2 linked regions of the Homo sapiens genome follow. The protein of the gene in region 2 interacts with the protein of the main gene of each other region in a pairwise test. Each region holds a gene or a part of one and is shown on either strand. Other genes may lie near its edges.

Region 1 (3,819 bases), on a different chromosome or scaffold from region 2:
TTCTTGGGGAAAGTATTAAAAAGGAATTAGGAAGAGCATTATACGAACTATCATATTTTCCCACCAAGGCCCCTTACATCTATAAAATTCCACAGCTCCATAGAAGAGCTGCCAGGCTGCCCCTCGTCGGCTACCCACATTAAACCCCAGGGGTGGGCAGATACAGCCCCCATTTATGTCATTCAGCCATTGGCACAAGCCCCACCCGAGACCCCATTGATACTGGCATTTTTAAGTGGCTTGAATATTCTTTATTGACAATTCCCTCAGAGGTCGAACTTACACAGTGAAGTGACCCCAGAAATAGTCTTTATTCTTTATAAGATGCAATGCTTTCTTACATTCTGAGAAATAAATTAAGAATTTTTGCCATTGAGCTGTAAGTAAATGAAGACTTCAAGAACGTCTATGCTTCCAAATATTAGGTAAGATATTTTAAAATATGAAATTTTACAATATTAAGGCAATTCTATGGAAAAAAATAAGATATTTACTGGCTCCACTTTAGAATCAACTGTTATTTACTGACCAACTGTTTTTTTTTTTGTAAATTGCATAATATGGGAGGATATATTCTTAATAGCAATGGGAAGATGGATGAGTGATTTTTAATCTCCTCATTTTAATATATTTTCCAAAGTGTCTAAAATAAACATATGGTATTTCCATAAAGAGAACAAAGGCAATATGAACATGTTTGGGGAATAGTAGTATGGGGGCTAGAATTTTGTCTTTTGGGGCAAACAGTGGTTAGAGCTAGGACTTCTGCTTAAATTACCATGATTTAGAATAGAAATATATTTTTGCAATTTGTTGCACTTAGTATTATAAATAGAGATTTAAGATTCTTGCTTTTAACCTTAAAAGTAGTTGTAAAGAGTTAAATATCACTGTGTGACTACATCAAAATAGAAAATTCTTTTGAAAAGAAAAAAAAAATAGGCAAAGGACCAAAGTTAAAAGCAAATAAAATGGGATGGATTTTTGGATAAAAATGTGTCAAAGTGTTCATATTAATAGCTTTTATTCTGTGATGAGCTTGAACAAATTCAAATTCCACATGACTCTCAGAAAAATCCATGGCTATATGCAGGGGGATAGATATAAGGAGAAAAAAAAGATGTTAGACAGAGCTTCTTTGAGGTAAGGATCTTGTTAAAATGCAGATTCTGGTAGAGCAGGTCTGAGTAGACTCTGCATGTCTAACAAGTATACAGGTGATGCGGAAGGTGCTGGACACAGACCACACCTGAATAGCCAGGAGCTTGCTGGTTGGATATACCCTGGTTAGAAAAATCAGGTTTTTCTCTGATCAGAGATGCAAAGACATGCTGAATCTCTGCAGTGACTTTTTTTTTTTTTTTTTTTTTAAGCGCAAAACCACAGGTCTCGGCAGAAGCTTATTCTGTGGATGTAAGATGTGAACTCCCTGTTTGGCATCTGCCCAGGCCCAGGGAAACTACAGATTCCCCCACAGGAGGGCCCTGAGGATCCCACACACATCTTCCCCTGAAGCTGGACAAACCAGGCAGGTGCCTGGCACCCGCAGCTGATGGCTGAAGAGGAGCCTGGGGTCAGAGAAAGCCCGTTCATCACCTGGAAATCCTGCGGTTTGTCTGACAGCAGCTTTCTAGATGTAGGCGCACTTCGCTTTCTTTTGATCCCGGGGTAGTGGGGCGGAGGACGTGAAGGTAGTTTCCTTGGGGTGGTGGGAGCCCCCGGGCCTCCGCTTTGATCCAGGAATGGCTCCGCCTCATCTCCAGTGAGTCCCTGGTCCTCTGTGTCTTCCTCTCCTCCTGTGTCTAAGAGGAGAGGGCCCTAATGAGGCCTGGATCCCTCTGGCCCTGCCCCTGCCCCTGCCCCTGGGACCCAGCCCAGGGGGCAGAAGATCCAAAAGGCATGGGCCCTAAGACTCATCCCCTCTTCCTCTCCCTCCTCCCTCCCCATCAGTGAGCCAGGATGGATAAGGTAGAAAGAAGAGGAGCTTCCAGCAGCTGAAACTTGAGGGCAGTCAGTCCAGTTAGTCAACAGGAAGAAAACAGAATGGCCCTAGCCCTCCCACCCGCCAAGTCCTGCAGGAGGAGTCCTCTGCCACCTGGCCCCGCTCCAGCAAGCTGACCATGGCAGCTAGTGAGACAGTTACAGGGAGGGTCTGGGATCAGGACAGTCCTGGCCCGTGTCTCACCCGTGGGGGCCGGCCACTTCTTTCCAGAGTATCTCGTGTCCATGGTGCTGTCACTGAGCAGGGACCAAGTCTCGGCCCGGCTCTGTCCCCCGCCTGTCTTGTGGGCAGGGCATAACCCCGGGAGGGGAGGGAGGAGGTTGGGGTGAAGGAAACCAACCTACTGCACCTCCATCCCCAACCCTGCCTTCCCCGCCCACCCCAGCCTGGTGCAAAGCTCAGAAATAGCTGTGGAGCCCAGTGGCACCTGTTCCTTCTCACCACCTCCCAGGCGTGTCTGGAAGCCTCCACTGATTGGCCTGCACCTAACTCTGTCAGATCCACCTCAACACAGTCCCAGAGTATTCGGACCCTCCCTGCTCCCCACCCTCTGCCACCACGGGCACCTCTCCTTCCTCCCCTGAGCCCACTCCAGCCACACAGCTCAGGATTACCAGGTTACTCCAGTCCAGACTGATCTCCCATCTCTAAGCTCGGACAGTGCTGAGCCCCAACAAGACAGCTCTGCTCTGCCGACCTCACCACAGAGCCCTGTGCTGGGCTGGCCCCAGGTCAGGCACAGGGCACACTCAATTGAGACATGGGCTGCTCCGGTTTTAATGCTGTGCTTGCTTCTAGCTCCCTTCACTAAGAGAAAAACTCTAGAATCTTTCCCATGGGCAAGTGCCCACTAGCCCGTCTATGTAGCTTCCTCCCAACCCCAGCAGGCTGGACCACATGGAGGCTCCCACACCCAGGCCCACCAGTGGAGAGCCAGCCACCCCGGGCTGGGTCCTCGCTTGACCAGCCTGGCAGAACCAAGTGAAGAGAGCTGAGACAGGCACAGCACTTAGCTAACTTAGTCTGCTCCCTTCACAAATAATCTATGGGCCCAGAGAGGGAAAGTAATCAGCCCAAAGTCACACAGAGACTCAGTGTCAAAGGCAGGACTGGAACCCTGAAGTTCAGTTCAGGGCTCTTTCAAGAAAAAAAACTAGTTCTTTTGTCACACACCATCACCAAAGGCCTGCTGGGTGCTGAGGTAGGGAAACATTCGGTTCTGGGGAGTTTGTGGGGCCTCAGGTATCACCTGGGTCAGACCCCATCCCCACACACCCTTCTTGGAACTGCACAGCTCAGAACACCCAGCCTGGGCTCAGCCCCGTCCCCAGGCAGCTGGGGCTTGGAGGCACCCTCACATTACTCCCTGCACCGCCCAAGGGAACGTGCCTGCTGCCCCTTCTTTCTGCACAGCAGAAGGCAGCCCTCAGGACTTCCCACCCACTGCACCCTCTTCTTTCCAGGCCTGGGCAGCCTCCAACCTGGGGAGGGCAGCAAAGGCTGGGAAGCCTCGCTGCAGCTCCCAGCCCCCAGGCTCAAGTGCCACTGCCGGCCTTCTTGCTGGGGCCCAGCCAGGCCAACGTGGGCTACCCACCTGCCACTACATCCAGGTCAGGCAGAGTCGGGGAGGGCTCCAGAGGAGTAGGGGGCGGGAACAGGGGCACAGCTCCAGGCAGCGGTGTGTAGGACACCTGCAGGACCAGCGAGGCCTGGAAGAGATGAGACGTGGGGGACAGGTTGGTGCGCTGGCCTCGGACCACTGCCCTCCAGTATCTTCCCTGTTTCTGGCATCCCTCCACCAAGGAATATGGCTCTGA
Region 2 (3,819 bases):
CTACCTACCTACCTATCTGAGACAGGGTCTTATTCTGCTGCCCAAGCTGGAGTGCAGGAGCTTATCATAGATCACTGCAACCTTGAACTCCTGGGCTCAAGGGATCTTCCTGCTTCAGCCTCCTGAGTGTAGGTGGGACTACAGGTGCATGCACAGTACCCGGCTAATTTTTTAATTTTCTGTATCACTATCTATAAAATTTACTAAGCGTTAATCATATGCTTCAACACTTTATGTACATCATCTCATTATTGTTATCCATTTTACAGGTACAGAAACTGAAGGGTTAAATGACTTCTCCCAAATTATACAACTAAAAAGTGCCTGTTTTGCATAGTGTCTTTAAATCTAATACCAGGGCATATTCCAATCTTTAGGAAAACCTAGAAATATGCTCAAGATAGGGGTGTAGCCTTGATTTTCTTACTAACATTTTTTTCCCTATTGGTTCTTATGTATTTCCCAGTGTGTATAATTCAATTATTCTGAACTTGAGAGTAAAAAGTTGGTCACTACAAACTTGATGAAGATTTGTCTGCAACATTATTTAAAATAGGAATAAGGCCACACACGGTGGCTTATGCCTGTAATCTCAGCACTTTGGGAGGCCAAGGTGGGCAGACCTTGGCCCACCTTAGGTCAGAACTCCAGACCACCTTAGGTCAGGAGTTCGAGACCAGCCTGGCCAACATGGTGAAACCCTGTCTCTACTAAAAATACAAAACTTAGCTGGGCATGGTGGTGCATGCCTGTAATCCCAGCTACTCAGGAAGCTGAGGCAGGAGAATGGCTTGAACCCAGGGGGTTCAGTGAGCCGGGATCGCACCATTGCACTCCAGTCTGGGTGACAGAGTGAGACTCTGTCTCAATAAATAAATAAATAAATAAAATTAAAAATAAACTAAAATAGGAATAAACAGTAATAGCAAACATAGGATTTGTACAGCGAAAACAAACAGCAGGTGGCCAGTCGCGGTGGCTCACACCTGTAATCTCAGCACTTTGGGAGGCCGAGGCAAGCGGATCACTTGAGGCCAAGAGTTCAAGACCAGTCTGGCCAACATGGTGAAACCCCATCTCTACTAAAAGTACAAAAATCAGTGGGGCAGCCGGGCGCGGTAATTCCAGCACTCTGGGAGGCTGAGGCGGGCAGATCACGAGGTCAGGAGATTGACACCATCCTGGCTAACATGGTGAAACCCTGTGTCTACCAAAAAATACAAAAAAGTAGCCAGGCGTGGTGGCAGGCGCCTGTAGTCCCAGCTACTCGGGAGGCTGAGGCAGGAGAATGGCATGAACCCGGGAGGCGGAGCTTGCAGTGAGCCAAGATCACGCCACTGCACTCCAGCCTGGGAGACAGAGCGAGACTCTGTCTCAAAAAAAAAAAAAACCGAAAAAAAATTAGTGGGGCATGGTGGTGGGCACCTGTAATCCTAGCTACTCAGGAGGCTGAGGCAGGAGAATAACTTGAAGCCGGGAGGCAGAGGTTGCAGTGAGCCGAGATACTCCAGCCTGGGTGAACAAGAGACTATCTCAAAAAACAAATGAACAAACAAAACCAGCAGGCAAGGGATTCTGCTGTTTTAAAGCACTTCATAGATTTAAAATGAGGACAGTTTATATCAGAGATTTTGGGCTTTGTCCCTGAAAGATGGATAAAGTGTGTTTGGTTATAACGTGAATTTATTTCTTCATTCTTACCTTACTCCAAGATTTTCAAAACGAGACTCATCAAGACAAGGCAGTAATGCGCCTGTGATTTCATTTTCTATGGAAGAAAAAAGACAAATTCAATGTATACAACATATGCTTTTCATTTTCTTTCAATTTGGATACACCAACATTTACCCAGATCCACATAAGTGAGTACCCACTGCAGGCAATGGATTGTGCCAAGTACCACTTTTTTGATCTGCTACTTGTAAAGACTTAATTTTAATTAAATAACTAAACCAAGAAGCATTTTTTGATAAATCACGTGAAAATTTCAAAATTATTTGTGTAAATTAGTTCCAAGAAAAACCAGTTGCAAAAAGGAAAGTGAAACCCGACTACCTGTTGGGGTTTTGCCAGGTCAGCAGCTTTGAGTTGGGGAGGGAAGGAAACCTAAGTCTATTGTTCTTAGAATTAACAAGGTTTGAGTTGGGGAGGGAAGGAAACCTAAGTCTATTGTTCTTAGAATTAACAAGTTAAAACCGTGAATTCAAGAGTGCTTAAAGTGTTGATTTTTCTCAAACCTCCTGGGAAAGCACTCAATACTCTGATTTGGAAGAGGTGTGTGTGTGTGTGTGTGTGTGTGTGTGTGTGTGTGTGTCCTGGGAAAGCACTCAATACTCTGATTTGGAAGAGGTGTGTGTGATTTGGAAGAGGTGTGTGTGTGTGTGTGTGTGTGTGTGTGTGTGTGTCCTGGGAAAGCACTCAATACTCTGATTTGGAAGAGGTGTGTGTGTGTGTGAGTGTGTGTGTGTGTGTGTGTGTCCTGGGAAAGCACTCAATACTCTGATTTGGAAGAGGGGTGTGTGTGTGTGTGTGTGTGTGTGTGTGTGTGTGTGTGTTGTTGGGTTTTTTCCTTTCTCTTTCTATACAATTAATTCTAATCTTTCCTGACCTCAAATTCCAGAACTCTGGACTATTTTCTTTTATTTTCTTTGAGACAGGGTTTTGCTTGTTGCCCAGGTTGGAGTGCAGTGGTGCGATCACATCTCACTGCAGCCTTGACCTCCTGGGCTCAAGCGATCCTCCTGCCTCAGCCTCCTGAGTAGCTGGGACCACAGGCATGTGCCACTGCACCTAGCTAATTTTTATTTTTATTTTTTGTAAAGTTGAGGTCTCCTGATGTTGCCCAGGCTGGTCTTGAATTCTTGGGCTCAAGTGATCTTCCCACACTGGCCTCCCAAAGTGCTGGGATTATAGGTATGAGCCACTGGGCCAGGCCTCCAGTGGTTTTTGATGAGAATACTTGTTAAGGTATAGATCACATGAGTTCTAGAGTCCAAAGACCTAACCTTAAAAAATCTAGCTCTTTTTTGTAGTGGTGTGATCTCTGAAAAGTTACTTTACATCTTTGGACCTCGCATACATCATCGGTAAAATGTGTTGAGTGTAGTAACTTATTTCAGACTTCTTGTGAGGCTGTATTCCATAATGAGAAAAGGGACACTGTACCTTGTGCTTGGCTTATCAAATTAAAAAAAAAATGGACTTAGATAAAGAGAGACTTTTTTTTTCTTTTCCGAGATGGAGTCTCACTCGGTCGCCCAGGCTGGAGTGCAGTGGCGGGATCTTGGCTCACTGCAACCTCCGCCTCCCAGGTTCAAGTGATTCTCCTGCCTCAGCTTCCCAAGTAGCTGGGACTACAGGCACATACCACCATGCCCGGCTAATTTTTGTATTTTTAGTAGAGACGGTGTTTCACCATGTTGGCCAGGCTGGGCTTGAATTCCTGACCTCAGGTGATCTACCTGCTTCGGCCTTCCAAAGTGCTGGGATTACAGGCGTGAGCCACCGTGCCCGGCCAAGAGAAACTTTATTAGAAAGAAAGACTATTGCTGGTCGGGCGTGGTGGCTCACACCTGTAATCCCAGCACTTTGGGAGGCCAAGGCGTGTGAATCATCAGGTCAAGAGATTAAGACCATCCTGGCCAACATGGTGAAACCCCATCTCTACTAAAAATACAAAAATTAGCCAGGTGTGGTGGTGGGCACCTGTAGTCACAGCTACTCAGGAGGCTGAGGCAGGAGAATTGCTTGAACCCGGGAGGCAGAGGTTACAGTGAGCCGAGATCACACCACTGCATTTCAGCCTGGCGACAGAGCGAG

Evidence for each region.
Region 1: the proteins of SAMHD1 (region 2) and DYSF interact in a two-hybrid assay, tested with the Homo sapiens proteins (one large-scale study listed by BioGRID and IntAct).

The regions. Positions count from the first base shown.
Region 1 is NC_000002.12:71,511,699-71,515,517, reverse strand, and holds part of DYSF (dysferlin), read right to left. Parts: intron 3,712-3,819; coding exon 3,597-3,711; intron 2,279-3,596; coding exon 2,186-2,278; intron 1,803-2,185; coding exon 1,597-1,802; intron 1-1,596. UniProt on the Homo sapiens protein: Key calcium ion sensor involved in the Ca(2+)-triggered synaptic vesicle-plasma membrane fusion.
Region 2 is NC_000020.11:36,945,037-36,948,855, forward strand, and holds part of SAMHD1 (deoxynucleoside triphosphate triphosphohydrolase SAMHD1), read right to left. Parts: intron 1,769-3,819; coding exon 1,702-1,768; intron 1-1,701.